2 separate regions of the Homo sapiens genome follow, and region 1 is linked to region 2. Evidence: fine-mapped expression QTL. A gene starts in region 2. The other region holds a variant in brackets. All regions are shown on one strand. Distances are between the middles of the regions. Region 1 overlaps SLC6A4 (solute carrier family 6 member 4). Region 2 holds the start of SLC6A4 (solute carrier family 6 member 4).

Region 1 (13,128 bases), 19 kb before region 2:
CACGGTGGAGGCTTTGGGACAAGGCTGTGGCCTTCAGGACAGTGAACAGGAGGGAGGGGTAAGGTTGCTAAGTGACTGGTCAAGCTGATCATCACCAGTTCCCCGGCTCGCTGGACCATGTAAGCATCTCAAAGAGTATTTCCCTGTTTTACACTGTCATTTAAAGCCCATCACTAAGGAGAGCCAGGAAACAAAATAGCACACGTGGACAGAACTTCAATATATGAGGTCTCTCGGGGAGACTCCGTTTGCACCAGAAAGGCCAACTCAAAGCTGAGACTCACTCCACACTAATAATTCCAGGCCCTGAACTGAACCCTTGGCAAAGCAGAGACCCAGGAGAGACCTCGCCCCGGCCTGTAGGCGCCATAATTGGGCCAAGGGACAGTGCTTAATAACAGTTCACATATGTGAGCCTTGGGCCTCATAAGCGCCTGGCGCTTGACCCACTTTATCCCATTAATGACTCGAATGTACCAGAGGGTGGTAAATGCCGAGGAGTCAGCCGGGGGTCTGGAGCACCAGAAGGGAGTAGCCAAAGCTGCCTGGGATGGCCAGGGATGGGAGGGAATTGAGTCCAGCTGAGTCCTCCTCCTTTCCTCTTCATCCTCCCACAGCCCATTTCCCCTTCCCATTTCCTCACCGTGCTGTCCAAGCCCAGCGTGATTAACATCAGAAAGAAGATGATGGCAAAGAAAGTGGACGCTGGCATGTTGGCTATCGCTTCTGCATACGTGATGAAGAGGAGGCTGGGACCTGAGACAGAGGGGAGAGAGGAGGAGGTGGTTGACAAGACCTGTCCTACAAAGATGTCACAGAGGAAAACTCAGCCACAACAACAGTTACAATTCTCATCACAAGACCTTATGTGTGAATCAGGTTTTGACACACACCAAGTGCGTCCTCACACTCTACTCCGTCTGACGTGGCCACCCCAGTTCCTGGGAGGCAGGAAGGGTGGGGCTTCCATCTTGAAAACTGTGTGCCCTCCATTAACCCTGGGGGTGGGTAACAGATCCAAGACCCAGAGACTGGCAAAGCTGCACATGAGAATAAGAGTTTCCACCATATAACAATTCCATGGGATTTCTCAGGACCAGGATTGATATTTCTAAAGTCCATGACAGTTAGCCCCCTCTGATGTCTTCAGCTTCAGAACAGTAGGAAATGTTAAATTGATTTCCGTAGAGTCACAGAGGCTTTGGAATAAAGACCTCTTTCTATTTTAAAGTCCCTTTTGAAAGTGTGAGGGACATGTCTTCAGCCTCTCATGGGTTAGCTAGGGGTGCCCTCGTTTGGGGTATGGGGTTGGTCAAAGCACCGAATCAGGCCAAAGATACAAGCATGCTAACATGCTTGTAACAAGAAGGCCCTGGGACCTCGCCCACTAGATGCCATCATCTGTTTTTTCTCCCTCTGTTGCTCTTTTCTTTTTCCACAAAAACTTCACGGTAAAATAGAGTGGTCATATTGGCTAGATTTTCTTTTTCTGCAAGGGGCAGTTCTAAGGATAAATGATATTTGCTTACTAGACTTTGAGCCATCACAAGACCATCACAGGAAGCAAACCCACTGGTTTTAAAGCCATCATCAGAGTCATCATTTCAAGCCCATAGATTTTGGAGGCCCCAGAACTGGGTGCCAAGGGAGTTGCCCTGTCCCTGCATGGCCTGAACACATGGAAAGATCTCTAAGGCATCGAGCTTCTCTCAAATCTTTGAATAAAAAATGTTTTGGAAACAGGGTCTTATTCTGTCACCCAGGCTGAAGTACAGTGGTGTGATCATGGCTCACTGTAGCCTTGACCTCCCAGGCTCAAGCAATCTTCCCACCTCAGCCTCCTGAGTAGCTGGGACTATAGGTGTGCACTACCATGCCCAGCTCATTTATTTTTTTATAGAGGCAGGGTCTCACTATGTTGCCCAGGCTGGTCTTGAACTCCACCATGCCCAGCCTTCTTTGGAAAATTTCAGGAACATTTAGAAATAAATCAAAAGTTAGATCTTTACAAAGATTCAAAGCAAAGCAACTCAGTAGGAGCAAGGGACCTGCATAGAACCCGAGGTCCTACCTGCGTCTTTGGCCACCTCAGACACATCTTCATTCCTCATCTCAGCCATGTAACCGAGCACTGTGAAGATGACAAATCCCGAAACGAAGCTCGTCATGCAGTTCACCACGCTGGTCACCAGGGCATCTCTGGAGGGGAAAACCCAAGGGGCCGCCTGAGACAGTTCCAAGATCAGGGGTCTAAGGAGCATCTGTCCGTGTGCCTGCCCTGCCTTAGACAGGGCGGCCACAGCAAGGACAAGCAGGCTGAACTCAAGGAACCTCAAGCCTGTCCCGGAGTCCCTTCGCCTTCTCCCAGAACCCAGCTGCCGAGGCCTGAAGCTCTGACTGCCATGACCACCACACATGGTGGAGGGAGAAGAGCAGTCAGGGGTGCTTTAAAAGGCAATCCTGCTAGCACAGACCTCTCCATTTCAAACCAGCCTTGTTCTGGAGCAGGGCCCAGGTTGGAGTGGGGGCCAGGACAGGGCCTGAGCCTCACATTTGTGAGATCCTCAGATTTAGGCTTTATCTTCAAACTAAGTCACAGACTGCCAGCCAGAGAGATACCCTCATTTTTTTTTCTTTTTTTTTTTTTTTTTTGAGACAGAGCCTTGCTCTATTGCCCAGGCTGGAGTGCAGTGGCTTGATCTCAGCTCACTGTACCCTCTGCCTCCCGGGTTCAGGTGATTCTCCTGCTTCCGCCTCCCAAGTAGCTGGGATTACAGGCGCCCACGACCACGCCTGGCTAATTTTTGTATTTTTAGTAGAGATGGGGTTTCCCCATGTTGGCCAGGCTGGTCTCAAACTCCTGATCTCACACTTTTAAATGACAGCCTCATCATACAACTGCAGGGTGGTGTCCCAGTGCAAGGCCACATTGCTTAGGGTACATGTGAATCTCCCTCCCACCTTTAAAAAAATCAGTTTTACAATTATCTTATGCATAGCACAAAGAGATTGATGGATGCTGCCATCTGTGATCAATTAAAATTAAGTCTAAAGATGATGGGTGACATTTATTTATTTATTTATTTATTTATTTTTGAGATAGGGTCTCCCTCTGTTGCACAGGCTGAAGTGCAGTGGCATGAACACAGCTCACTGCAGCCTTAACCTCCCGGGCTCAAGCAATCCTCCTGCTTCAGCCTCCTGAAGAGCTGGGACCATAGGCATGCACCACCACACTCAGCTAATTTTTAAATTTTTTGTAGAGATGGGATCTCACCATGTTGCCCAGGCTGGACTCAAACTCTTAGGCTCAAGTGATCCTCCTGCCTCAGCCTCCCAAAGGGCTAAGATTACAGGTTTGAGCAACTGCACCTGGCCCAGTGGGTGATATTTAAAACCATAATTGGTGTAACATTTCCTGTTCTGTTAAAATTTCTGAAATAGGATTTTGTTGCAAAAATTATGGCATTTTGGCTGGGCACAGTGGCTCACGCCTGTAATCCCAGCACTTTGGGAGGCTGAGGCAGGTGGATCACCTGAGGTCGGGAGTTGGAGACCAGCCTGACCAACATGGAGAAACCCCATCTCTACTAAAAATACAAATTTAGCCAGTCGTGGTGGCGCATGCCTGTCATCCCAGCTACTCGGGAGGCTGAGGCAGGAGAATCGCTTGAACCCGGGAGGCAGAGGTTGTGGTGAGCTGAGATTGCGCCATTGCACTCCAGCCTGGACAACAAGAGCGAAACTCCGTCTCAAAAAAAAAAAAAAAAAAAGAAAAGAAAAGAAAAATTATGGTATTTTGTGTTAGTCAAAATAATGTGATCATCATACTTTTTGTTTATACATAATACAAATAATCACATTACAATTTTTATTGTTAAACACATTGACTAGTTAAACCTAACTACTTAATTGTATGTTGCAGCTTTTTGTAAACTTGCTTTGCAATTTCTCTTTCTTTCTTTCTTTTTTTTTTTTTTTTTTGATGGAATCTCACTCTGTCGCCCAGGCTGGAGTGCAGTGGCACAATCTCGGCTCACCGCAAACTCCACCTCCTGGGTTCACGCCATTCTCCTGTCTCAGCCTCCTGAGTAGCTGGGACTACAGGCGCCCGCCACCACGCCCGGCTAATTTGTTTGTATTTTTAGTAGAGATGGGGTTTCACCGTGTTAGCCAGGATGGTATCGATCTCCTGACCTC[G/A]TGATCCACCCGCCTCGGCCTCCCAAAGTGTTGAGATTACAGGTGGGAGCCACCGCACCCCGTCTCTCTCTTTCTTTCTTTCTTTCTTTCCTTCCTTCTTTCTTCTTTCTTTCTTTTTCTTTCCTTCCTTCCTTTCTTTCTTTCTTTCTTTCTTTTTTCTTTCTTTCTTTCTTTCTTTATTTCTCTCTCTCTCTTTCTCTCTCTCTCTTTCTTTCTTTCTGGAATCTTGCTCTGTCACTCAGGCTGGAGTGTAGTGGCAAGATCTCAGCTCACTGCAACTTCTCGTGCCTCAGCCTCCCAAGTGGCTGTGCTTACAGGTGTGCAACACCATGCCTGGCTAATCTTTGTATTTTTAGTACAGACAGGGTTTCGCCATGTTGGCCAGGTTAGCCTGGAACTCCTGACCTCAGGTGATCCACCTGCCTTGGCCTCCCAAAGTGCTGGGATTACAGGCGTGAGCCACCATGTCCAGCCTCTTATTATTTTTATATACAGGAGCGCTGACAAAACCGAAGGGCATGGGGCCCCTCTCAGCCTGAGTGGCCCAGGTGAAGCCACGGCCTGGATGAGTGCTCTGGCCATGGGTGAGCTGGTCAGGGGCCTGCAGCACCCCTGAGGGGCAGTGGTATCAAGGCCTAAGCCTGGCCAGATTCGAGGCCGTCGGTCCAATCACCTTCCTCCACACTAGCTGACTTTCACTCACGCCACTTTCAAGCTTTGCTTGGGGACCCCAGATACTCACTGGTAGCAGTTGTTGTTGAACTTGTTGTAGCTAGCAAAAGCCAGCAGGACCCCAAAGCCCGGACCAAGAGAGAAGAAGATCTGAGCGGCTGCATCTATCCACACCTGGAACACAGCAGGGGTAAGGGCATGGGGTGAGGGGGAGACACAGGCTTACCCTGGCACCAACAGGGTCGCCACTCCTGCCTCCATGTGGCTAAGTGCAGAGGCAGAAAAACAGCTTTTAAGGCTCATTCCAGGCATAGCCATAAACCAAGTGCCAACAAATGTGATTTCTCTTCCTATGATTCAGGCATAAACCCATCCAGTGGCCTCAACTGTACTTTAATGCTTGTATTTCTTGGTTAAAGTATCATTGCAGACTTGCACACTGAAGCCACATTTCAGTTGTCCCTACTGTCCTATTTGGAGGAGGACCAGCTTCGTTTAGTAAAATGACAGACAGGTACACATATTTCCCTCATCATCTTACCCCTGTCTCCAGGAGTTTCTGCCAATTGGGTTTCAAGTAGAAGAGAACACCCCTCCAGGCTCCAGGGAGGGTGGCACCCCTCACCAGCAGGACAGAAAGGATGATATAAGGGAAGGTGGCTGTCACCCACACCACCTGTAAGGAAGAAGGGTTATCACCATGCTGTTCCAGGGAGGGGAGGGGAGGGGAGGGGAGAAGGAGAAGGGAGCGGGGGAGGGGAGGGGAGGGGAGGGAGGTGGGTGAATGGATGTCAGTGTCTTTTATTCTTGAAGACCTTGAGAAAGGAGGGCGAGGTGGTGTGGCAGAAAGATCACAACCCTTGGAGTCACACAGGGATCGGATTCAGGTTGGCCAGGAGAACTACCTCTGAGCCCACTATGCATCTGTAAGGTTGAGGGAGTATCTAGCAGGAAACAATAGCACTGGCCAGTGTATAAAAAGCACTGAACATGGTCCATGATGGGTTTCCAGTAAGTCATTGCCACGATTATTAATTGTGGTACTACCAGTGGGTTGAAGGAATCTTGAAAAAAAAAAATCATGTAATGGTTCTTGGCATTGGCCCATTTCTAGAAAATATTCTTTTTTCTTTTCCTTTTTTTTTTTAGTGAGACAGAATTTCACTCTGCTGCCCAGGAGTGTAATGGCATGATCTTGGCTCACAGAAATCTCCACCTCCCAGGTTCAAGTGATTCTCTTGCCTCAGCCTCCCGAGTAGCTGGGATTACAGGCACCTGCCACCACACCTGGCTATTGTTTTTTTTTGTTTGTTTGTTTGTTTGTTTGTTTGTTTGTTTAAGTAGAGATGAGGTTTCGATGTGTTGGCCAGGCTGGTCTTGAACTCCTGGCCTCAAATGATCCACCCACCTCAGCCTCCCAAAGTGCTGGGATTAGAGACGTGAGCCACCATGCCCAACCCACTTCTAGAATTTTCTAACAAATGCGGTGAAGAGAGAGAGGGTGCATCATGGAATGTGTTTGGTGTGGAAGGAAACAGTGCTGTCTGTCCAGGCTACTGGGTTTTGAGTTTGAGAGCCTGTGGGCCCCTGGGCAGGCCTGGGTCAGCAGCCAGAGCCTTCCTCACCTTGCCAGAGGTCTTGACGCCTTTCCAGATGCTGAAGTAGATAACAGTGAAGATCAGCATGATGCAGAGGGCCAGCTGCCAGCTGATGCCCCCCAGGTCCTGGAGCCCCTTAGACCGGTGGATCTGCAGGACGTGGCGCCTGGGGTGAAGGAGAAAGAAAGGCCCCTGAGAGGCTCTGTAGAGTGACCTGGGCACACATCTGTGCTGCTCCTTTGAGGGTGCCCGGGACAAATGGACACGGTGCTGCTAGGACCAAGTGGTCACTGAGGCCCAGGAAGAGCTGGGATTGGCCCTGCCTGTCCTGAAGGACCACAAAGCACATTTGGCCAACACCCTGGGAAGAGTGTTCAACCTAAAGGCAGACTTCCTGGATTCTCCTTTGCTGGATGGGACCTGAACTCCTTTGACCAATGTGACTGGCTTTTGGGAACATGAGGGATGTGTAAGTGTGGGGAGTTGGCTCCCTTCCCTACCCCAAAGTAGCTCTCTCTTTGGGCTGCCATTGCCTGAAATTCCAGCATTAAAGAAAACTACCTTCCTCAAGCATCTTCTTCCAAAGGGTAGATCCCACTTACGAAGTTGACACATTAAACCATTTGAATAGTTTTGAACTATCAAAGTACTAGGATGCTTCGCCTCCATGACATTTGGCTGAGAGGAGGACCCCGGAAGAAGGGGAGTAATTTTGGAATGTGAAGGGAGGGACGGGCTTGGGCGCATTGGAGCAAACTGACTTGGCGCATGAGAAAGTGCAAGGAGGCACAGCAGGGCCAGGCCGTGGAGCACTTGAGGTAGAGTTTCCCAGCTCCAAATTCTGCTACTCCCACCCCTGATAGCTTCATCTCTCAGAAAGGGGTGAGGAGCCCTTGGCCCTGGCCTTCTTTTTAAGAAGCCAAACCCCAGGGGTGTGGCCTGCCCCTAACAGGCCAACCCCTCACTTACGTGCACTTACGTGTAAAATTCTTCAGCAGGGGACGTGGAATGGAGGGTCCAGGTGATGTTGTCCTCGGAGAAGTAATTGGTGCAGTTGCCAGTGTTCCAGGAGTTCTTGCAGCTGGTCCAGGGCAGCTGGTCCGTGAAGGAGGAGATGAGGTAGTATAGCGCCCAGGCCATGATGGTGTTGTAGTAGGAAGCAATGTAAAAGGCAATGATGCAGATGGCATAACCAATCCCTGGGCAGTGGGTGAGATGGAGAGACAGAGGCCGAGTTTAAGGGTGGCCCAACGGCAAAAGGCTGAAACGGGGCACTGGAGAGCCCCGCAGCCCAGCAGAGGGGTACACGTGGGTGCTGCCCTCCATTCCATTCCAAGGACTCCAGGCCACCGTGGGAAAAGTGGCCCTGCCGTTAGTCACTCATATGTATTTGCAAGGTAACATGTTTTAGAAAATGTGTACATGTCCTGTTAATGCTTTAAAATGTTTACATTAGTTTACTTCTCATTGCCGTTTATTCTGTTTCTCTTTGACAATTTCACACCACTTACGCAGTCAAAACCTTAATTACTCAAGCAGTCTCCCAGGGATGCCTAAGGCCTGACTGATTCCAGAAGAAGGTCCCCAGCTCCCACCCACTGATGGAAATCCCTTCCTGAGAGGCTCCACTTACCCACCCCACCGAGCCCTTCAGTTACCTTTGAAAATCGGGCAGATTTTCCTCCATATTGAAATGCATCCATTTCGGTGGTACTGTCCCAGTGCGAGCTCCATGTAAAAGAGCGGGATTCCCCCAAAAATGGCCATGATGGTGTAGGGGAGGAGGAATGCCCCTGAGGCAGATGAAAGACAATTTCACTCCCTGCCCACGTCTGTCCCAGGATAGCCCAACCAATCTGTGACTGAGAATCACAGTCGCCGGATGATGTGAGTGTCAGGAGCCACCCTGGGCTGAGTGGCCTCATGCTGTGCTCCTCTGGTCTCAGTGCTTTGCTAGAAGCAGTCGTAGGGGGAGCACCATGACTAAAATGAGGTTTCAGAGGAGGCCAAGAGAGCAATTGGGAAGAAAGCCTGGTTTGGGAGTCGACAGAACAGGCAGGATCACATCCACTTATGACTACCTGGAGAACGCTGGGCCACTTCCCCTCTCTGAGCCCCAATTTCCTCCCTATAAAAGAACACAGTTGAGGAGAGCTGAGTTTCCCAAATGTAGCCACACATCATAGTCACCTAGATTCCTGGGTCTACCCCAGACCTCCTGAAGCGGAATCTCCAAGCATGGGCACAACACAAAAATTGTGTTCAAGCTCCCTAGGTGATTCCGATGCAGCCAGTACCTGGGACCCTTGGAACAGATCACCTGTGACAATCTGTAGCAACAGCTGCAACTCTCTGTGAGTCACCAAATCAGTATCTTTGTTCATCAGTATTATCTATGGCTCCAGACACATGATTATTGATATTTGGCTACACTTCCATAATTCCATTGAGCCAGAATGCTCCCTGACAAGCGCCGTTTGCAGGAGTGGCTGGACAGGGTAGTTTTTCACAGAACAAGCAAGCACAGAGCTGCTACCTAACTGGAGATGCTGGTGTCTCCTGGATCTTGTGGCTGAGGCTGAATTTAAAAATACCAAGTTGGGGAATGCTAACCTGCAGCCTGAGTTTTTAGCCTAAAGGGTGGATCAGCTGTGATTTTCCCTAATTTTCCCTGCTGTAAAATGCTCTGAACCCAGAAACCTGAGGTCTGTGCAAATCAGAAAGGTCCATGTAATTTACAGTCACACTGGGTAAACCCGGCTCGAGAATAAAACCATGTGTTCTCGTGATGGCCTTCCTCCAAAGAGTTTGCTTGATCAGCTTTACGCTGGGGAATGAGTGTCGGGGAAATGTCACCAGTGACCCAGCCCCTTACATAATGCCCAGGCTAAAGGTGAGTCCTCTGGAGCAGGAGATAAGGTGATTATGACTTTTGCTCCTCCTAGGCAGGAAGCGCTGAGCTTCCCAGGGGCCCCCTGGAACTACCTTTGCAACTACATGGACAGAAATCTTTAAAAGAGAGTAAATCCAGGCCACTCTGTGTTAGGTCACGGGAGAAGTGAGGGTGACACAAATGGATGATCCCCAAACCTCTTTGTAGCTGCCCTCCCAAATCTGTTGTCAGAGTTCCCATGAAAATCAAGCTTGACGCATCTGACACCCACTTCTTGTTATTTTCTTGTGCTGATAACAAGTCCAGAGGCCCCAAACCCATTCACTTTTCCCCACTGCTCTGCTCTCCCCCAGGTTCCCATCTTCATGCCTACAGTCAGCTACTATTTTTTATAATCTACAAGTTAACTACTTGAGAGGCTTTAGGGGTACAAGGAACAAGATAGGGCCTCTGGCCTCAAAAATCTAACATCCCAGGAGGAGATAGGAGGGCCAGCCATGCGTGGTTTGAGGTTGGTATTAATGTCATGCTGTGGATCTAATCCAGCTTAAATTCTGCCCAGACTGGTAATTAAGATTTAGGACTTAACGCTGATGCCCTTCTCTGACCTCACACAGGTCCAAAGGATCAGAAGCATCTGGGACTCTGAAGCCACCTCCAAATTTTCCCTTACGCAGGCCTACCCTCGTGGACTCTTCCCAGCAGAACTTGCCAGCAGGAGTGAAGGGACTCAGCACAGGGCTGACGGCCATTCCCTCACTTCTGGCTGGGGGAGGACAGAGCCTGGAGAATGCAGGATGAGAAGGAGGCCCTTCAATAAATGGAGCGCTAATGATGCTGGAGATCTGTGAGGTCAGGTTTGGGAGGGCTTCACCCAGCTTCACAACCCGGAGAGCCTCAGACACGCTGTCTTCAGCTTTTGGCTTGCTGGAGATTTGACTTTTTTTTTTTTTTTTTTTTTTTGAGACAGAGTCTCGCTCTGTCGCCTAGGCTGGAGTGCAGTGGTGCCATCTCGGCTCACTGCAACCTCCACCTCCCAGGTTCAAGTGATTCTCCTGCCTCAGCCTCCCAAGTAGCTGGGACTACAGGCGCCCACCACCATACCCAGCTAATTTTTATATTTTTAGTGGAGACGGGGTTTTGCCATGTTGGTCAGGCTGGTCTTGAACTCCTGACCTCAGGTGATCCACCTGCCTCAGCCTCCCAAAGTGCTGGGATTACAGGTGTGAGCCACCACGCCTGGCGAGATTTGACTTTTCTACCAGCTCGAAAGTCTAAGTCATCATGTTCCTAGTCTTACGCCAGTGAAGACTGAAAAGACATAATCTGTCTTCTGGCCTCTCAAGAGGACCTACAGCCCATCCCAGGTCACAGCCCACCCGGGTCACAGCCCACCCCAGGTCACAGCCCACCCGGGTCACAGCCCACCCCAGGTCACAGCCCACCCGGGTCACAGCCCATCCCAGGTCACAGCCCACCCCAGGTCGCAGCCCACCCGGGTCACAGCCCACCCCGGGTCACAGCCCACTCCGGGTCACAGCCCACCCTGGGTCACAGCCTCTACTCGCAGCCTGTGATACTGACCCCCTCCATTCTGGTAACATATGTAGGGGAAGCGCCAGACATTGCCCAGGTCCACAGCATAGCCAATCACTGAGAGAAGGAAATCCACCTTCTTGCCCCAGGTCTCCCGTTCCCCTTGATGAAGCTCAGCCACTAGGGTGGTGGTGGTCGCTGGGATAGAGTGCCGTGTGTCATCTCCCGCACCAGGACTTGGAACTGCTGAGTACCCATTGGATATTTGCCCGGACTCCACTTTGTCCCCTGGGGTGGGAACAACCTTCTGTAGAACTCCGTTTTCCTGACAATCTTCTCCATCTTCACACGCTGATAGCTGCTTCTGAGAATTCAAGGGCGTCGTCTCCATCCTGCTGGTTAGTAAATGACACTGATGTCCATCTGCCAAGGATCCCAATTGATCTCTGGGTGCTTGGATTTGTGGATCACCTCCGAGCTCTCTATCGTCGGGATTGACACGTCGGGATTGACTCTGTTGGAAAGACACACAGAGGAAGGAGAAAAAAGTTAGACATTTTACTCATCTTTGGTATTAACTCATCATACATCTTAAACTACATTAGTTAACGGGATTACAAATGCATCTGTTAAATGTGAGACATCCTATTTGCTACATGGCAGTCCATAAATTCAACTAAATTTCTCAACCTATACAGGGCATCAAATGACAATCAAGTAATTTCAAAAGGAAACAATAAAACCAACACAAATAGACAGCAAATCACCAAGGTTTGCACAGGCTGGACTGGAGAGCAAAGCACTCGCTTCCCTTTGAGCCACTGGACTCTCATCTTGTGGTTTGCCAGCAGCTCAGAAGAATGTGAGAGAGGCTCCAAAGCGTCACAGAGCACCCCCTTTGTCTTGGATGCTATGTTGGGGAAACAATGACAAGCAAAGGCGTTTCTGCCTTTCAGCAGGCAGGACAGTCCTCACCATCATTTAAGCTGCACACCCAAAGTTATATTTTATATCAACTACAGCTATGATTTTAAAAGGAAAAAAGCAAAGGACAGAGGTAAAAAGGCCACCCTTCGTGAGGCACCCCAGCTCATCAGCTACAGATTCTGTCACTCGTCTTTTAGCCCCTAGGAAGGTTGGGGCAGATTTGAGCTGCCTCCGGCTGTGTCCAGTCTATCTGCACATGGCCTTTCTGCGTTCCCATTATGCATTTGCAAGCCCGACTGGTCCTTAAACGGCACTGCTGCTCACCATTTGTTCTTCTTTCCACTTGCCAGCAACTCCTGTGGCTAAGCCCCTTGTTATTCTGCAAGAGAGGGCAAGCAAGGTCGCCTTGCCTCCAGGAGACCTAGGGAGAAGAGTGTGCAGGTTACTGATGCTGGGGTGGTTGGTGTCGCCGTCCCCCTGTGCCTCCACTGGGAGGGCCTGGCCGGGGCTGCTGTGCCTTCATTTCACCGCCGTGGCCTGGGCGCAGGGAAGTCAGCTCAGCTCTGGCTTGAGGTCTGAGTCGTCAAACGTGGGGTAGAAATTTGAGCCCTTTTGGACTTTAAACCTATGGCCTGTTATAAAGTTGTAAGCAGCAGTTGTAAGACTGTTCAACTGCTCACTCTGTTTCTTCTGGGCCTGAGCTTTTCAAACTCTTGAAACAGTTTGGGAGTTGAAATACGTTTCTGCCTAGCTGAGATGACACTGGACCCTTCTAGAAAAGATAGCCAGGGATGGACTGTTTATAACTGCAATGATCTGAGGCTAACCCTCCAGATCCAACAGTTAGGAGGATGGCTAGGAACTGGCTAATAGAAATGGCGCATGGATGTCTCCTACCTATTTGGGGTTTTTGGTGACTGCAACTTAGCTACCTACACATGTGAAGACAAAAACATAGTAAGTGAAAAATCAGGACACAAAATAGTAGCTTCACAAGAATGACTATGGCTATAAACATGAGCAAGGATTAGACATGAACACCAGGCAATGTCAGTCACTAGGGTTTGGCGTTTGCTGCATTTTTTCTGTAAAGTGGAAAATAAAAATTTTAAAGGGATCGATTGTTGCCAAAAATATCTACAGCAACAAGAGATAAATCAGCTTCATGTAGCTAGGGGCTGTGTGTGTGTAAGGGGAGGTAGACGTCTTGGGCTGTACCGCACTTGTTGGGCCCTCCGCCACCCACCCCAGGCTCAAGAATGCAAACACCACTCAGAAGGATATGAATTCTGACAAGAGCGG
Region 2 (15,810 bases):
TGTCCAGAACTTTCCCTGCCTGGGAGAGGATAGCCCTGGGCTTCTCTCTACACAGAGTATAAAATCTAGAGGATATGCCCCTTGTGATGGGGTCAAGGTCCCCCTGAGAGGCTGGCCAAAAGGATACTGGATTATTTATTTTGACTTTACTAGAAAGAAATGAATTTAGCATAGCAGATGTGAACAGCCCTCCTCCAGTGAATATAAACAGCCAAGCCCAGACTAACTTCCTTCCAGAGTCATCTTTCATTAGTTCCTCTGTTCACAACCCATAGCTCTCCTTTCTGTTTCAGGTCTGCACTGGAATCCCTGGTCCACCACTTAATGGCTGTGTGACTTTGAGTAGGTCACTTAACCTCTCTTAGCTTCCATTTCCTCCTGTGTAAAAGCAGACTGTTAAAACCGCTACTTCCTAAAGGCTGTCGTGGGAATTAAAGTATGACACATGCTTATCTCAGTGTCTAGCACAGGGAAGCATCAATAAATGACAGTGAGTTGATGTCACTATCACCACCATACATCCGCAACCCATTGTGCCTTTCTACTTCATACCCTAGCAGGGAAACTGAGGCCCACAAGACTTGGGACTTAAGTGATCTGTGGCTCCCAGCACGGGCCTCACTGGGTCATGCTTGCTGCTCTCAATCAGTGCTTGGGGTCACCTGGGAAACAGACTCCTGGGCTGCTCTCCCAGAGATTCTAATTCAAGAGATCCACGTGGGCACTCAGGGATCTGCAGTTTTTAACAAATACCGCAGGTTATTCAGGGGCCAGTAGGCACCAACAGTGCCGTGTGCGTCCCCACCTGTAGCTTCCCTTCCTCTAATTATCCTGCACCCTCCAAGGCCTGGCATAAGCTTCTATCCACCTCCTCTCAGCACTCCAGCCCAAGATACACTCTTTCTACTCAATTCTCATTTGTCACTCGCCATTGATTACCAGGCATCATTAGTTATCCTTTTATATACATTTGCTTCGTGTGCCCCTGGAAGCAGGGGCTATGGCTACACGTCCCTGAGTCCAAATACTTGCAGACTGGAGCACGCCCTGTACAGCTCTCAGCATGGAGGGCTTGTTTTGGGTTTCCTGACTGGGCGAGGGTGCCAACAGATCTGAGCTCCATGTGAGGTGCTGCTCTTTCTCTCCTCCCTGGAGTTAAGTCAAATGGGATCAGGGTTCTATTCTAAGGGGCCCTGTCCCTCCCTGCCTCACCCATCGGGAAGATTGGCTGTGCATCTTGTGGGCAGAGGAGGAGGGCTGCCTTAACAGTCATTTTCATGGACTATGGACAGGAAGAGACTGACATGCCCAGGATTAAAGAGCCCGGGATGGGCTTTCAGACTTTGAAACAAGTACTGGCAGGCACACCCATCAGCGGTCTGGGCTCCAAATGTTCATCTGTGAGCTGGTGGTTTGGAACTTAGAATATATTTCCTAACCCACAGAAATAAATGTGATAAACTAAAACATCTGAAACGAAAGCTGTAGAACACAGCGTTGTTAAGTGCTACACGACGGCTTAGGGGTGGGGAGGGGGCTGACAATGAGACTGATTCGAAGTTCTTTCTTTATTTTAACCTTCTTTTTGGTTCTTAAGGAAAACTAAATTTAAGGAAAGAAGAACAAGGAGCAGGGAGATCCTTGTACAGATTCCACGGAGGTGTCTTTTAGGCACTTTTGAGGTCTTTAGTTTTGTTTGTTGTTCAATTTTAAAATACACAGTAGAGATGAGATCTCGCTATGTTGCCCAGGCTGGTCTTGAACTCCTGGACTCCAGCGATCCTCCTGCCTCAGCCTCCCAAAGTGCTGAGATTACAGCATGAGCCACTGCGCCTGGTCCAAGTTCTTTAGAAGTTGATGACATGGGCTGGGCGCAGTGTCACATGCCTGTAATCCCAGCACTTTGGGAGGCCAAGGTGGGCGGATCACCTGAGGTCAGAGTTCGAGACCAGCCTGATCAACATGGAGAAACCCTGTCTCTACTAAAAATACAAAAATTAGCCAGGCATGGTGGCGCATGCCTGTAATACCAGCCTTTTAGAGGCTGAGGCAGGAGAATAGCTTGAACCCAGGAGGCAGAGGTTGTGGTGAGCTGAGATCGGGCCATTGCACTCCAGCCTGGACAACAGGAGCGAAACTCCATCTCAAAAAAGAAGAAGAAGAAAAAGAAGAAAGAAGAAGAAGAAGAAGAAGAAGAAGAAGAAGAAGAAGAAGAAGAAGAAGAGGAGGAAGAGGAAGAGGAAGAGGAAGAGGAGGAGGAGGAGGAGGAGGAGGAGGAAGAGGAAGAGGAAGAAGAAGAAGTTGGTGACATGAATTGCTTGTGACACATAATTTCACAACTTACAACTTTTTGCAGAAAACAAAACTGCTTTTACTCTGTTACCATAGTATATTTAAATGTGGACGAGGCTGGGAAAGAGACTTGAGAAACTCAAAACAGATGATGTGTTAGATTAATCAGGATTAGGAGTGTCACTTCACCTTCCAAACACTCCTTTACTGTTGTGATAAATACAATTTATGCAATAAGTAAAAATCGAGATAGAACACATGGGAACATGTCCACACACAGCTTTTCTTTTCCTTTATACAGGTATGTTACTAAGATTACCTTTGTGTAAAACAGACATGATTGGGTCCACAAAGGGACCCAAAACAGAGAGAAGAGAGGAAAAAACAACCCCAGGGAGAGGGTGCTATGAAATAAGGGTGGATTCACCTGTGGCTGCTGAGCAAGGCGGAAGAGGGAAGTGGGGAAAAGGGGGTTTGAAGTGGAACTACAAAATAAAATGGGAGTGGAGAAGAGAAAAGAGAGGGGAAACTGGCCCATTTCTCTGGGTGGGGCATGGAGGGGAGAAGGAGAGGTGAGGTCAGGTGAGGTGAGGCTGCTGGAGGAGACGGGTGCATCCAGGTGGAGAGGGGGCGCGGAGGACACGTGCAACCACCTCTTCAGCCACAAGGTGTTTGGAGTTTGGCTGTTGCTGCTCAAAGGTGCCTATACTCTTAGGTCAACAATTTCTGAGATGTGCTTTAGTGTGAGTCACACAGTTGGAGACACTCATGAAAAATCAGTTCATCCTTACACATCATTGCACCAGTCTAGTTCTCAGATATGCACTGAGATGAGAGCAAGAAAAACTTTCTGACCCCTAGTTTACAGTCTCACAGAGTAACACTGTATGCTAAAAAGGACATCATTGAGACAGCGGGGGAAATGGGAATATGAGCTGTATGTGCGATAATAGTATTGTATCTATCTCCAGTTTCCCCAGCATGAAAATGGCGCTGTGGTTACGTACAAGAAGGTCCTTGTTTGTTGGAAATCTGTGTTGAAGTATTTAAGGAAGAAGTATCTGGAAGTCTGCAAACTCTCAAAGGTTCAACTATATATATTAGTTGAACCTATATATATAGTATATATATACCTGTATGTATACCTACAGATATATATATACACACTATATATATCTGTAGGTATACATACAGATACATATAGTTTATATATACATATAGTGTATACAGACACATATATACACTGTATGTATCTGTATGTACATATGTATATATATATCTGTATGTATCTGTATGTACATATGTGTATATATAGTGTGTATATATATCTGTATGTATACATACAGATACATAAATGGCATAATTATATTAATGATCTTATATATTACACATAATATATCAAATCATATATATACTGCATATGCAAAAATTAGATATATGCATAATTAGAGTGACTTTGTACACAAATTGGCAAAATGTTAACTGGTGAAAATGGACCATATCTCTGATTTTTCAGTTGAAAATTTTCAAAAGAAAAAATAATTCTAGCCCTCAGCCAGTGCTGGGAAACTTCCAGTCAGCCAAAGCTCCCTGCTGACCAGAACAGCTTACCTCCCCTCTCCCCTCCAGGCTCTTCCCTCCCTGTTCCTTCGGCCCAGCTCCCCAACTCTGAAACAAGAGAAAGGGCCAGCTAATTTGGTTCGCCTTTTAAAGAAGACATGCCCATCATTACGGAGGGAAGAGAAGAGAGCGAAAGTAGAAGAGACTCAAGTTCTAGGCCTGGCTTTGTCCTCAAGAGCCGTGGGTGAGCTAGAGCCAGCCATGCACAGAGCTACGGGGAGCAGAACCCCTCCCTGGTCCTTCCAGGTCTCCCACTCACTAATTCTTGGCCCCTTAGAGGAAAAAGTTCCCTTAGAGAAGACAAATCAGCTTATTTTATTCAACAGTTCAGTAACAAAGGAAATGAAATGCTCTTTTTTCCTGTATACACACAGAAAGGTCACACCAAAACCCAAGACGGCAAAGGCCCACGTACTTGCCCCCTCCTGCTAGCTGCCCACCCAGTCTGGGGCTCTGGGCTCTCCCAAAGCACACAATGGGTTCGCTGTGTCCCCAGCTTTGCTGAGAAGTGCTCGCCCAGATCACCACCTGGTCTCATCATAACCCCTCCTGTCACCTCTTCCCTCCCTACCTCAAAGAATGACCTGAAGAACTGGACATCAGCATCCCAGGAGACCCTCCCCTTGCTGTCTGTCACTCGTCAGTACCTGAAGACCTGGGACATTGCCTCTCTGTCTCCACATCACTGGGTTGCGTCTCTCCTTTTGCAGCCCAGGGGCTTCTGGGATTAATGGAGGTCCATCCAGTCCTGGGTGCTAAAGAGCCTGTGGCTTAAATCCCATTAACAAATCCCCTTGGTTCAGGGTTGGGATGGAAGCTGGGGAGCTGCTGCCAGGTTCCAGAGGGGCCAAAGGAAAGATGGAAATAATAATAAGGCAGTCAGACTGCCTCACATCCACTTTATCGCTACTCATTTTGTCACCTCATTAGACACAGGGCTGGGAAAACACTTGCTCCCATTTAAAAGCGCGTTGTTGACATTCAGTAAATGAGCATTCGTCTTCCCAGTCACCCAGAGCAAACAAAAGTCAGGCTGAAGGGAGCAGCCCCTGCAGAGACGTTTCTCACAGGGCAACATTTCTGAATGTGAACCAAAGTCAGCACCGTGAGCTCCACCTGGAAGTACGGGGCTGTGCAGGCCAATGGTGGAGCCCGTGCCCACCTGGAAGAGCAATTTGCCTTTCTGCTCAGGGAAGATCATTGATGCCAGGTTTCTGTGAAAGGCTAGTTTCATCTGTTTTCCCCTGGGTCCCTCCTAGAAAGATGGGAGTTTTCTTCCCTTGGAATGTCATTTTGCCTGGTTAAGCCCAGAAACAGATTCCCTGTAAGAGCAAGGGAGTCTGCCTCACTTGTCCCAAGTGTGGAGAAACAGGCGCTTTTATGAGATGTTTCGCTCCACACCCACGTATGTTCCATGGAACACCGCAAACATCAGGGAGTGGAGGTGGCTGTTAATAGCCCAGGGACTGGACAGGAAAATCGGTGCAGCCCAAATTTGTGCTGCCTGGGGGCTATTTCTACCGCACCACACCCTGGGCATCTTGCAAAGGGCATTTGGGCAGCTGGGGAGTCGGGTTATTGGGCCCCTGTTGGTTGGCTGTGGTTAAGGTGCAGGGGTTAACTTACTTACATGTGTCAGAGTGTGCAAAGCCTCTGCCTTAGAGTGAAACCTGAGGGGATCCCCAGGAGACCCTGATTTGAAGGTGATATCTGGGTAGAGAGTACCGGCCCTCCGGCATTTTTGCACCATCATTTCAACTCATGTTTTCTTAAAGTGGAGAGGTTAGGGTCATGGTTGCAGAGTGAGTTGGAGGGGACTCGGACATCGTGTTAGGCAGTCCTCTCCACAGCCCCTCATTTAGAGCTGAGGACCACGAGGAGCTGATATGTTACTGGGAATAACTAAGGTCTGAGTTACCTTCTCAACAACAACCAAAAGTGACTGTATAATTTTTGCTCTGGCTGTCCAGACATCTTTAGAAAAAGTCAAGTCATGACCATATCCTGTTGATTCATGAAGCCAAATTAAAATTAAGCTTCTTCAGGAAGCCCTGCCTTCTATATTCTCTCCAATTATACCATTCATTCCACAACTAGGAAGGAGAAGGAGCTGCCACGTATTGGCTTAATGTCTGGAGTTACCTGTGTTTCTGTTTGGCAGCGGACATCCAGGGTGTTTGGGAAGCAAGCACCTGCTGTAAGAAACAGACTGATCCATGCTCCTAACCCCCCTCCAGCCAAGCATCCCCATTCCTCAGGCACCTCACCTATTTGCGAAACTCTTCAACATGCCTCTCCAAGTTTCATCAAAATGCTCAGACGACTCTAAACATCCCCCGAGAGGAATTTCTGAGGTCTTTCAGATTCCATTAAAACATCAACATTATTCCCCCATCCCACTCCTAGTATATATATATTTCTTAAACAAGGAGATTGAAAAAAATGGGTTTGAATATCTGTGCTGGTGGTTATATCTCTGAGAGGTCTTAGATGGATCACCAGAGTGTTGAGGGGACTTTTGATTAATTGTGAAGCACTTTCAATCTGTTCTTTAGTGGGAAAAAGAAAGAAAGAAAGAAAAGAGGAAAAACCCATGCCCCAAGTGGCTTGCTCAATTTGCACAAACCTCATAAGAACCTGCTTCTCACTCATCCATATTGGAACGGTCACTGCCACCCCAGAGTGCGTGGCAGGAAAACCCGAACCCTGGGGCCTCAGTGGCTTCACACAGAAGCAAGTAATGGGACAAAGAGTCAAAGCTGTGTGCTCCCTACGCTCCTAAAAACCCAACACTGACGCTGCCCACAGTTCTCTGTTTCATTAAACACAAGTCCCAATGTCACCTTCTTAGACATTTTTCCTATGTAACTGAAGGCAAAACACATTAAATATTTGCTCTCGTCTTCCTATGATGAGAGTTAGCTAGCAGGCTCATAAATAATCCATTGACCAGGTTCACTTTTCTGGACAAAACTGATGGTAAAAATACATACACAAAGTCTTTGTAATGTCTGATTCAGAAATTCTACCCCTCTCAAATTCTTCAGAGTCCCAAATGGAAAAGGAACAATTCAATATGCAAAAGCCCCAGTTCAGAAGAAAATCTGCTCCTTAGCCCAAGACCCAAATCCACTCTTGAGCTCCAGAGAGCTTTTTTTCAAGAACAAGTTTGAATGTACACAATTTTCAAGCAAATGATGGTTATATCCTTCAACCACGTAGCACAGTCGTTGGAGTTGGAGTTTCACATACATTCTGAATGGCCTGTGAGGTGTCTGAGAGCGCCTCAGCTCTGACAGTGAAACCACCCAAGCGCACGGAGACTCGGCCCACTTAGGCGCCACTCAGAGATTTCTCTAGCTGTCTGGGCATTTGTGTCAACCAGAACTCTCCCTTTGCATAAAGCCACCTGCACGCGATGACAGCAAAGTAAAGATCAAACATAAACCATGGGTTGAAACGAAAGCAAGCAACTCTTCCCAAAGCGCAGGACAGCACTTTGCTCAAGACCCTCTTTAAGGGGTCTTTCACGGGTCCTCAAGAGGTTGCAAAGCCCCTGCAACAATAGACAAAGGAGCCCCCTACGCCCGCCCACTTCGAGCACTCCACGTTCCTCGTCTCCCACTCTGGCCGGTCAGCTTCAGCTCTGGCTCTTGCTGAGCGTGGAGGGCGCAGGGGCAGGATCCGGCGCCCACCGCTGGGGCGCATGCACCTCCTCGCCTCCTCGCAGGGCGGTGGGGCGCAGCGGTTCTATCCCCCTCCCCGAGGCGGGGAAGAAGGTCTGGAAAGAAACGTGGGTTCGAGGCGGAGAGGAAAAGCGGACCCACCTGCCAGGCTGCGCGGGGAGGCTGGTCCCGGGCTGGGCAGGCGGGCTGGCCTCGCGCCCTCGAGGCACCCGGCGGCGCTGGCTGTGCGGAGGGGCGCCGGCGCGGCCGTATTTGTACCCGCGGGCCCTCACATGGTCTGATCTCTAGATAGCCGCCGCCAAAGAGCTCTTGAAGAATTTTTGCGTCACTTTGAGGCGAATAAACTTAATGCTTCCCCGCGGCCGCGGCTCCGCGCTCCCGCTGGATGGGGTTGCGCTCGCCAGGGAGGGGCCGCGCTACGGGGCGGGGTGCGCGCCCGACCCCAGAGCCAGGAGGGGAGGGACCCCCGACACACACACACGCTCGCAGGGAGGAGCGGAGCGCGGAGCAGCCGGCAGGGCAGGGCCGAGCGAGGAATCCTGACTTTCCTGCTCTTTAACTTTGCGGGAGGGGGGAGGCTGCACAAAGGAGCAGGTGTGCGCCTCCCCTGCCGCCCCGCGCCCACAGGACGGCACACAGGGGTCTGCTCGTGCCGCTTTCTCTTGACCTCGGACACCTCCCCATCGTCCCCATCCCGAAAGCTGCTCTCTCTTTCTTCCTGGGACCTAGCAGTACTCGATACCCATGCGTTTATCTGACTGACCGGCTGGGATGTGAGCTCAGCTTAGAGGCCCTTGTCTAATTCCTCTCCGTCCCCAGAGTCTCACAATAAAGACTTCCACAATGAAGGAATGAAGAACTGGTTCTCATTTTGTTAACCAGCTACAGTTCAAAGCTGCGTCAAAAAGGAGCACAGTGCTTTGGGAGGCTGAGGCGGGAGGATTGCTTGAGCCCAGGAATTCAAGACCAGCCTGGGCAACACAGCAAGACCCCATCTCTAGAAAAAAAATTTTTTTAATTAGCCGGGCGTGGTTGCTCGCGCTTGTGTTCCCAGCTACTCAGGAGGCTGAGGTGGAGGATCAGCTGAGCCCGGGAGGTCGAGGCTGCAGTGAGCCGTGATCGAACCACTGCACTCCAACCTGGTGACAATTTGAATTATCTGAAAGGGCCCAGCAGGAGCCTATTGTTTTGAACCATGTGCATGTAGTTTTGATAATTTTTTCAAAAAGTTTAAAAATTGATTTAATGTTAATATCCTTTTTGCTAAAATTATTTAAAACTTTAAAAAGGGCACATGCAGTACTTGCTTTGGGTTGTCCCTGAGGCGGAAAGGAGAGGGCTCTACCTCTCCCCAAGAGGAGGCCAGGAACGATAGGAAGTAGAAGACCGAAAGGAAATAGCAGTGACAAGTTTGCAGCTCCAGAGAAGCCACCGCCCCTTGTACTTGGAGGAACTGACCCCTGAAAACTGTGCGGCCGGTTGGGCTGAGCGTCTAGAGGGACTGAGCTGGACAACCACGGGCAAGCGAGGGCAGCTCCCAGCGGGTGGAGTCCGCGCGGGATTCTGGTGCCACCTAGACGCCAGGGCGGGGACCGCAAGGTGGGCGGGAGGCTTGGAGGCCGGGATGCGGGGGAATACTGGTAGGGTGCAAGGAGAATGCTGGAGGGGTGCAGGGGGGATGCCGGGGGTGCATGGGGGGATGCTGGGGGGTGCAGGGGGGATACTGCGAGGGGTGCAGGGGGGATAATGGGGGTTGCAGGGGAGATCCTGGGAGAGGTGCAGGGGGATGCTGGAAGGGCTGCAGGGGGGATGCTGGGGGTGCAGGGGAGATGCTGGGGGGGCTGCAGGGGGGATGCTGGGGGTGCAGGGGGGATGCCGCGAGGGGTGAAGGGGGGGATAATGGGGGATGCAGGAGCGATCCTAGGAGGGGTACAGGGAGTTGCTGGGAGGTTGCAGGGGGGATGCTGGGAGGGCTGCAGTAGGGACATTAGGGGTTAGGTGCTGGCATTCAGAGCGGCAACGCCAGGCGGGAGAATCCCCAACAAGCTTGGGAATTTCACCCCCAGGGGCAGCGCCTGCACGGGAGTGGGGCCTCCTCCTTTCAGATGAACACAGTTGTCTGCTGCCTCCCACGTTCCACTTCTTAAATGAGCATGTTTGTGCTGTATAGGCAAGGGCAACAGAAAACGCAAAGTGTCCTTTCCAGGAGGGCCAAAGGAGGGGGGCAGGGACGCTGGGAAGAGGCGCCAAAGCGGAGGACGGCTGCAGGGGTGACTTCAGCGCTTGGCTACCAAGACCAGGTCTGTCCAGTGTGACTTCTTAGCACTTCTTAATTGTGCAGTCTCGCCACTTCTGATCTTCCTTCTAGACTCTTTCTAGCCGAAGATGCATTCCTGCCCAGCGCGCAGCCCCTCCCTATGGCACTGCCCTGTTCTGTGCAGGTGCTGCCTAGAGAGTGGGCACCCTGTGGACCTGGGTCAAATCCCGGCCCCCACCCTGTACTGTGGTGTGGGCTTGACCGAGCTCCTTAACCTCAAGCTGTCTGGCCTTTGTGTCTCTGTTTGTGAAGTAGGGAGGATGATCTCAGTGGGCACTGCCCAGCTGTGGGTGGGGAAGGGGCCAACTCCTTGCAGGCCCTGTGCGCTGGGCCCTTCCTCCAAGGGGGCCTTCGACCCCTCCTCTCTCTGGCCGGGTGGTCCCATCTCCTCCCCTCTTGCTCCCCAGCTGCGGGCAACCACCATTAGCAAATGACATTAGAATTACACAGACGGCCCCGCCCTGGTTCCCCCTGCCTCCATGGCAGAGTCCGCACACAACTGGCCCAGACCCTCCCCCTCTCTCTAAACAGGTGTTTCTCTTCCTCCTGCCCTGGGTACCATCCCACAGAGAGGCCAGGCCCACCTGCAGGTCCTCACCTCCACAGAGCCAGCCTCTCTTGAGCAGCTCCGCTCTGCCTTCTGATACTCATCGCCACAAGCACCTTGTCCTTCCTCGGCCTCCCACTCCCTCCCTCTGAGCCCGCGCCCTGCTCCCCTGCCTGGCGGTCAGTCGACTGCCCCGCCCCGCCTCCAATTCAGGTGGACAGGCTTCAGCGTCCACTACCGGGGAAGAGGCAGCCCCGCACCCGTGCCTCCCCCCGCCTCTGGGCCGCTCCTTCCCAGCCTGAGCCTGACCGCATGAGGAAGGCACAACCTCTCTGCTCCAGAGACCTGGAGAGGCCGGGAGGCCCTGTCCTGGGCATGGAAGGCAGGAGGGAGCCCTGAGTGCGGCAGGAGGGAAGCAGCGCTTCAGGGGAAGGATCTAATGGCTGTGACCTGCGTGGGCTGCAGGTAAGAGTAGGGGGGAAGGGGGTTGTCGTGGTGGTTGGGACAGACGGGTTCCTTAGAATGTGAATGCAGGCGTCAGCTGGTGGCCGCAGGGAAGAGATGCAAGCCAGAAACCCAGCAGGCACCTGCGAAGCTTGGTGCTGGTGGTGTATAGGGACAGCCAGGGAGATGTCAAGGGCGACAGGTCCTGGGCAGCTGGGAAGAGGCTGCCTGGCAATCACCGCACAGCAATAGTTTTTCTTTGTTCACCTGCTTGAGCCCAGAAATAGTGGGGCTTAGAAGCTGCTCTGGGGCTCAGAATAAATACAAGCTTTCACTTTAAGAGGAAAGGGGCACATAAATATTTACACCTGCCCCAAACACCACCAAGAAAACCCACTTCCTGGAAGTCTCAAAGGCCAGCAGTGAGTCCCCTGTGGAGCCAGCCAGGACCGAACCATGCGAATCCCAGGCTCTCCCTCCGGAAGCCCTTGGTGCCATCTGTCTGTCCTGTCTCTGCCCTGTTTATACAATAACGAAAGAAGAAGGCCCACCCCTCCTTGTGGGCTTTTTCTCAGGCCCAGGAAAATGCTGACAATATTCAGTCCTTAGAGTGTCATCTTGCTCCATTCCCACCAGCACCTCCCCGACACCCCTGGTTTTTCCTGGGACCCCCAGTTTTTCCTGGCATGGTTCTGGTGACTCTACATTCATGTTCAGTGGCACCTCCAAGGCAGGACTTGCTGCCACTGTGAACCCTGGGCTCATCTCTACGGAGGTCTCCATGGGAGCCCCTAGCAGGCCCACCCCATCCAGATGAAGCAAGCTAAAGGGAACTCCAGACAAGGTCCTTTTGGGAGTGCGGGGGGTTTGGGGGAGGAACAGATCAGGTTCAGCCCTAAGAAAGGCCAGAAACATTTGGAAGTAGGTTCATTTTGTCATTGGTCATTTTTCCCAGCTCCTTCCCCTCATTCCTCCAGAGCCTTCTGCCTTTGCTAAACCCTCCTCCTAGCACCCCATCACCCGGTCTCCCACCTCCCTCTCCCCAGCCCCACCATCCTCTTGACTTGAACTCCCATTATCTCTCAGTCAGGTATTACGGCAGCAGCCTCACCACACCACTCACTCTATGATAACACCCCAAACACCCCCAGAAGCACTTGCTGGGCAAATGCTAATGCCAATAACAATAACTAAGACTTTTATAGCACTTTCTATCTAAGCCCCATAATTAATTCCCTCAGTCTTCACCATGGGCCCCTGCTGCTTCCACAACCCCATTGAGAGGCACAGTAATAATTGTTTAAAATCAGTAAGTATTTGTCAGATTAGCATCGATTTAAGTTTCTGTTGCTAACCCTGCTTAACTCATTGTATATTCAGACTTCACAGATAATTTTTTCTAAAAGAGAGGAAAAGGCAGGAGTGGCTGATGTGGAAAGGCCCAGCTTGAAGGATACTCACACGTGAGGAGAAATCAGGGTGTAGGTGACACCCCAGACTTTACAGATACTGTGACTACCCCACGATCTATCTGCAATCTCTGTGAGCCATGGTGTAGCAGGACGAGCCTCAGACAAAACCCTTCAGATGCCAGGTTGAAGAAGGAAGTGGCTTTATTCGGCTGGGAGCATCAGCGGACTCATGTCTCAAGAACTGAGCTCCCTGAAAAAGAAATTCCTGGCCCTTTTAAGGGCTTACCACTCTAAGGGGTACACGTGAAAGGGTTGTGATAGATCGAGCAAGCGTGGGGAACATGACTGGGGGCTACATGCATCAGCTAACAGAACAGAAACTTTTGCAATGCTTCCTCATACAATGCCTGGAATTTACAGATAACACAAGTAGTTTAGGTCAGGGGTTGATATTATTATTATTATTATTATTTTATTTTATTTTATTTTGAGACAGAGTCTTGCTCTGTTGCCCAGGCTGGAGTGCAGTGGCGCAATCTTGGCTTGCTGCAAGCTCCTCCTCGGTTCATGCCATTCTCCTGCCTCAGCCTCCCGAGTAGCTGGGACTACAGGCACCCACCACCATGCCCGGCTAATTTTTGTATTTTTAGTAGAGATGGGTTTCACCTTGTTAGCCAGGATGGTCTCGATCTCCTGACCTTGTGATCCACCCACCTCGGCCTCCCAAAGTGCTGGGATTACAGGCGTGAGCCACCACGCCCGGCCTATTATTATTTTTTAACCACCAGGGCCGGGTGGTGGCGCCAAGGTCGTCTGGCTATTTATCTTACTTCTGTTTTTTTTCTGACTTTTTGCTTTTTTCCTTATCTTCTGTCTTATAAACTAGGTGGGTCGGAGGGGAGGAGGAGAAGGGCAGCAGGAGAAGTGGTGGTCTCCTTCCTTAAGGGTTTATGATTTCTACTTCCTCCCTAGGGGATTCCCTTCCCTGACTTCATCAGCCAGGGCCACACTCCAGAGGGCAGCTGTTTTTCCCTTCCACGTTGGTGGAGATGTTGACGCCAGAAGCACAGAGAACCAGGGAGGGCCCCACCGCCCTGTACACATACAGCTGTTGCAGCACCTTGGTCCCTCTCCGAATTTCCCAGGCTCTGGGTTCCCAAGGGACAGGGTGCTGCCTCTCTCCATGCCTCAACACCTATCACTGTGTGGGCGCACAGCAGGCTCCATAAATGTACACACCAGCAATGAAGGGCTAGGAAAATGCCTCTGAGTCTTACCAGACTTAGTGCCATAAAACCAGGGCCCCAGTGGCATATCCACCAATGGAGTACCATGCAGCAGGTAGAAAGAGTAAGGCAGTTTTCTATGGGCTGATCTGGGGGAGTTCTCAAGATTTATTGTAAATGGAGGAAAAAAAATGCATAGAACAGTTGTTACTCCAAATTGTTGAGGGCAAGGCATGGGGGCTGATATGTGTATTGAAATCTGTAAGCACACAGAAGAGACTGGGAACAGTAGGTGCCTTGGAGGCAGAGGACATTAGGATGGAGGGAAACCCCCTTTGTCAATGTCTACCCTGCTATACTATTTAAATATTTGCCATGTGCAGGTGATATTTTTATGAAACTTTTTCAGAAAAGCATTTTTTAATTATAAAAGGCAAAGAAAGAAAGGGGTAACGGTGGAAGGGAGGGAAAAGAAAGAAAAGAGGGGAAGGGAAAAAAAAAGATGTTCTAAGGGGCCTCAAGTTTCTCACAAAGGAGGGAGGAGCCCTAGGGAGTTTGAAGGAGTTCAGCTCCATGTTACACCAGACGCACTACCCACCAAATCGTGCCACATTACACATCACCAGTGCTGTTCACTTAAGCAGGACATTTTTTTTTCCTATTTATTAGCAAAGATGCTGGGAGCCAAGAGGTGAAGTCCAAGGCTTTGCTCAAGATCTGATCAAAGAGCTAGACCTACTCTTAGAACTCAAGCCCTCTGCTCCCAGCTCCTGAAGCCAATCCTCTCTCCTGTACCCCATTTCCATTTTTCTTTCTCCTGCTCAAGTTTATAAGACACTCACCCTCTCTTTGGCTCTTCCTCTCAGCAAACTTCAGGGTAAATTGTGCCTCTCCATCTAGGAAGGGCTTCCCTTAGTTTCTTCTTGGTAAGCTGATCACCGCGTTCACTGTGGGTTGAAGTTACTTTAAAACAAGTCAGCACGTTACCTTCTCCAACTTCAAGCCCTTTCACAATTATTACGGAGTTTACTGCAAGATCTCTCTCATATAAAGTCACCTTTTCAACTGGTTCATGCATAAACATGTTATTTTCCCAAGTAAATGACAAATTTGGTTGGAGAGAAGGGAATTGTTTTAACTCCCAGAGGGGCTCCCACAACACTGGACACATTGAAGAATCTCCATGAGAACTGTTTTTAATAAAAGCTGCCATTTATTGAGCCTCTACTAGGCACATTATATGCATTATCTTCTGTCCTTTTTCTACCATATGGGAAATATGCAATATAAACTGGTATTATTATTTTTGGATAACTATATATGTTATCAAAAAATATAGTTTTCCTCAGCCAGGTTTCAGGCTGAGTTCTCATATTTAATAATTTTTTTTTTTTTTGAGATGCAGTCTCGCTTTGTCATCCAGGCTGAAGTGCAGTGGCGTGATCTCGGCTCACTGCAACCTCCGCCACCTGGGTTCAAGCAATTCTCCTGCCTCAGCCTCCTGAGTAGCTGGGACTACAGGTGCCCACCACCACGCCTGGCTAATTTTTGTATTTTTAGTAGAGACAGGGTTTCACCATGTTGGTCAGATGGTCTCGATCTCTTGACCTTGTGATCTGCCCACCTCGACCTCACGAAGTGAATAAATTTTAATATTGTTTTTCAACAAAGGAAGCATGGAAACAGAGGCTGAGAGAGATTAAGTAGCTTCTCCACATTTATACAGACTTGCCAGGTGTAGGCACTTATATGCTTGCCAAGTGGCAAGGCCAGCATATCTGAGTCCAAAGGCCCTGCTCTTCCCGCTGTGTTGGGCTGATTTGAAACAAAAAAGGTTCAAGCAGTGAGGAAGCCAGGTAAGCCTCTGTGGTTCTCTCCCTACCTATTCTCCCCACTGCCAGGAACCTGCATGAAATGAAATCAAGACCTTAATGTGAAATGTTGAAATACAAACATCTCCAGGGGCTTTGTTCTTGTTCTACTTGTCCCTGCTGAGCAAGTTATAGTGAAGCTGACTTCAGGTCTATGTAAAAACTGTTCGTTAATTATAGCTGTCAGAATAGAAGGTGTGCTCAGTGTCAGCCTACCCTATATTTCCTATGAGCCAGGCACTTGAGTATACAGTCACAAGCAGGACAAAGTTCCCGCCCCTGGGAGCCAACGGAGTAACTGACTTTGGGGAAAACAGACAATACACATATAAATACATCAGTACCTCCAGAAAGTGGTAAGTGCTGTGAATAAAACAGACCCTGTAACAGCATGG

Evidence for each region.
Region 1: its variant is fine-mapped to the expression of SLC6A4 in whole blood (TOPMed, PIP 0.99).

The regions. Positions count from the first base shown.
Region 1 is chr17:30,210,669-30,223,796 of GRCh38, forward strand. SLC6A4 (solute carrier family 6 member 4) reads right to left here. Exons shown (of 15, transcript NM_001045.6): 2 at 12,151-12,247; 3 at 10,948-11,413; 4 at 8,129-8,263; 5 at 7,450-7,669; 6 at 6,498-6,636; 7 at 5,414-5,548; 8 at 4,943-5,046; 9 at 2,072-2,199; 10 at 644-756. The coding sequence starts at 11,290. Among named protein-coding and RNA genes, the nearest start is that of SLC6A4, 18 kb to the right of the region's middle. RefSeq lists enhancers at 1,994-2,453, 10,649-10,947, 10,698-10,940, 10,717-10,733, 10,756-10,772 and 6 more and cis regulatory regions at 10,789-10,838, 10,789-10,821. The variant G/A (reference allele first, on the strand shown) is at 4,201.
Region 2 is chr17:30,227,874-30,243,683 of GRCh38, forward strand. It overlaps SLC6A4 (solute carrier family 6 member 4), which reads right to left and starts at 7,824. Exons shown (of 15, transcript NM_001045.6): 1 at 7,740-7,824. It overlaps LOC105371720 (a long non-coding RNA gene), which reads left to right and starts at 9,625. Exons shown (of 3, transcript XR_007065698.1): 1 at 9,625-9,898; 2 at 10,447-10,927. RefSeq lists promoters at 7,608-9,634, 7,608-9,392, 7,608-7,902, 7,798-9,622, 7,803-9,648 and 1 more, cis regulatory regions at 7,903-9,392, 8,264-9,088, 8,965-9,004, 9,232-9,402, 9,271-9,290 and 2 more, a silencer at 8,058-8,240 and an enhancer at 10,456-11,356.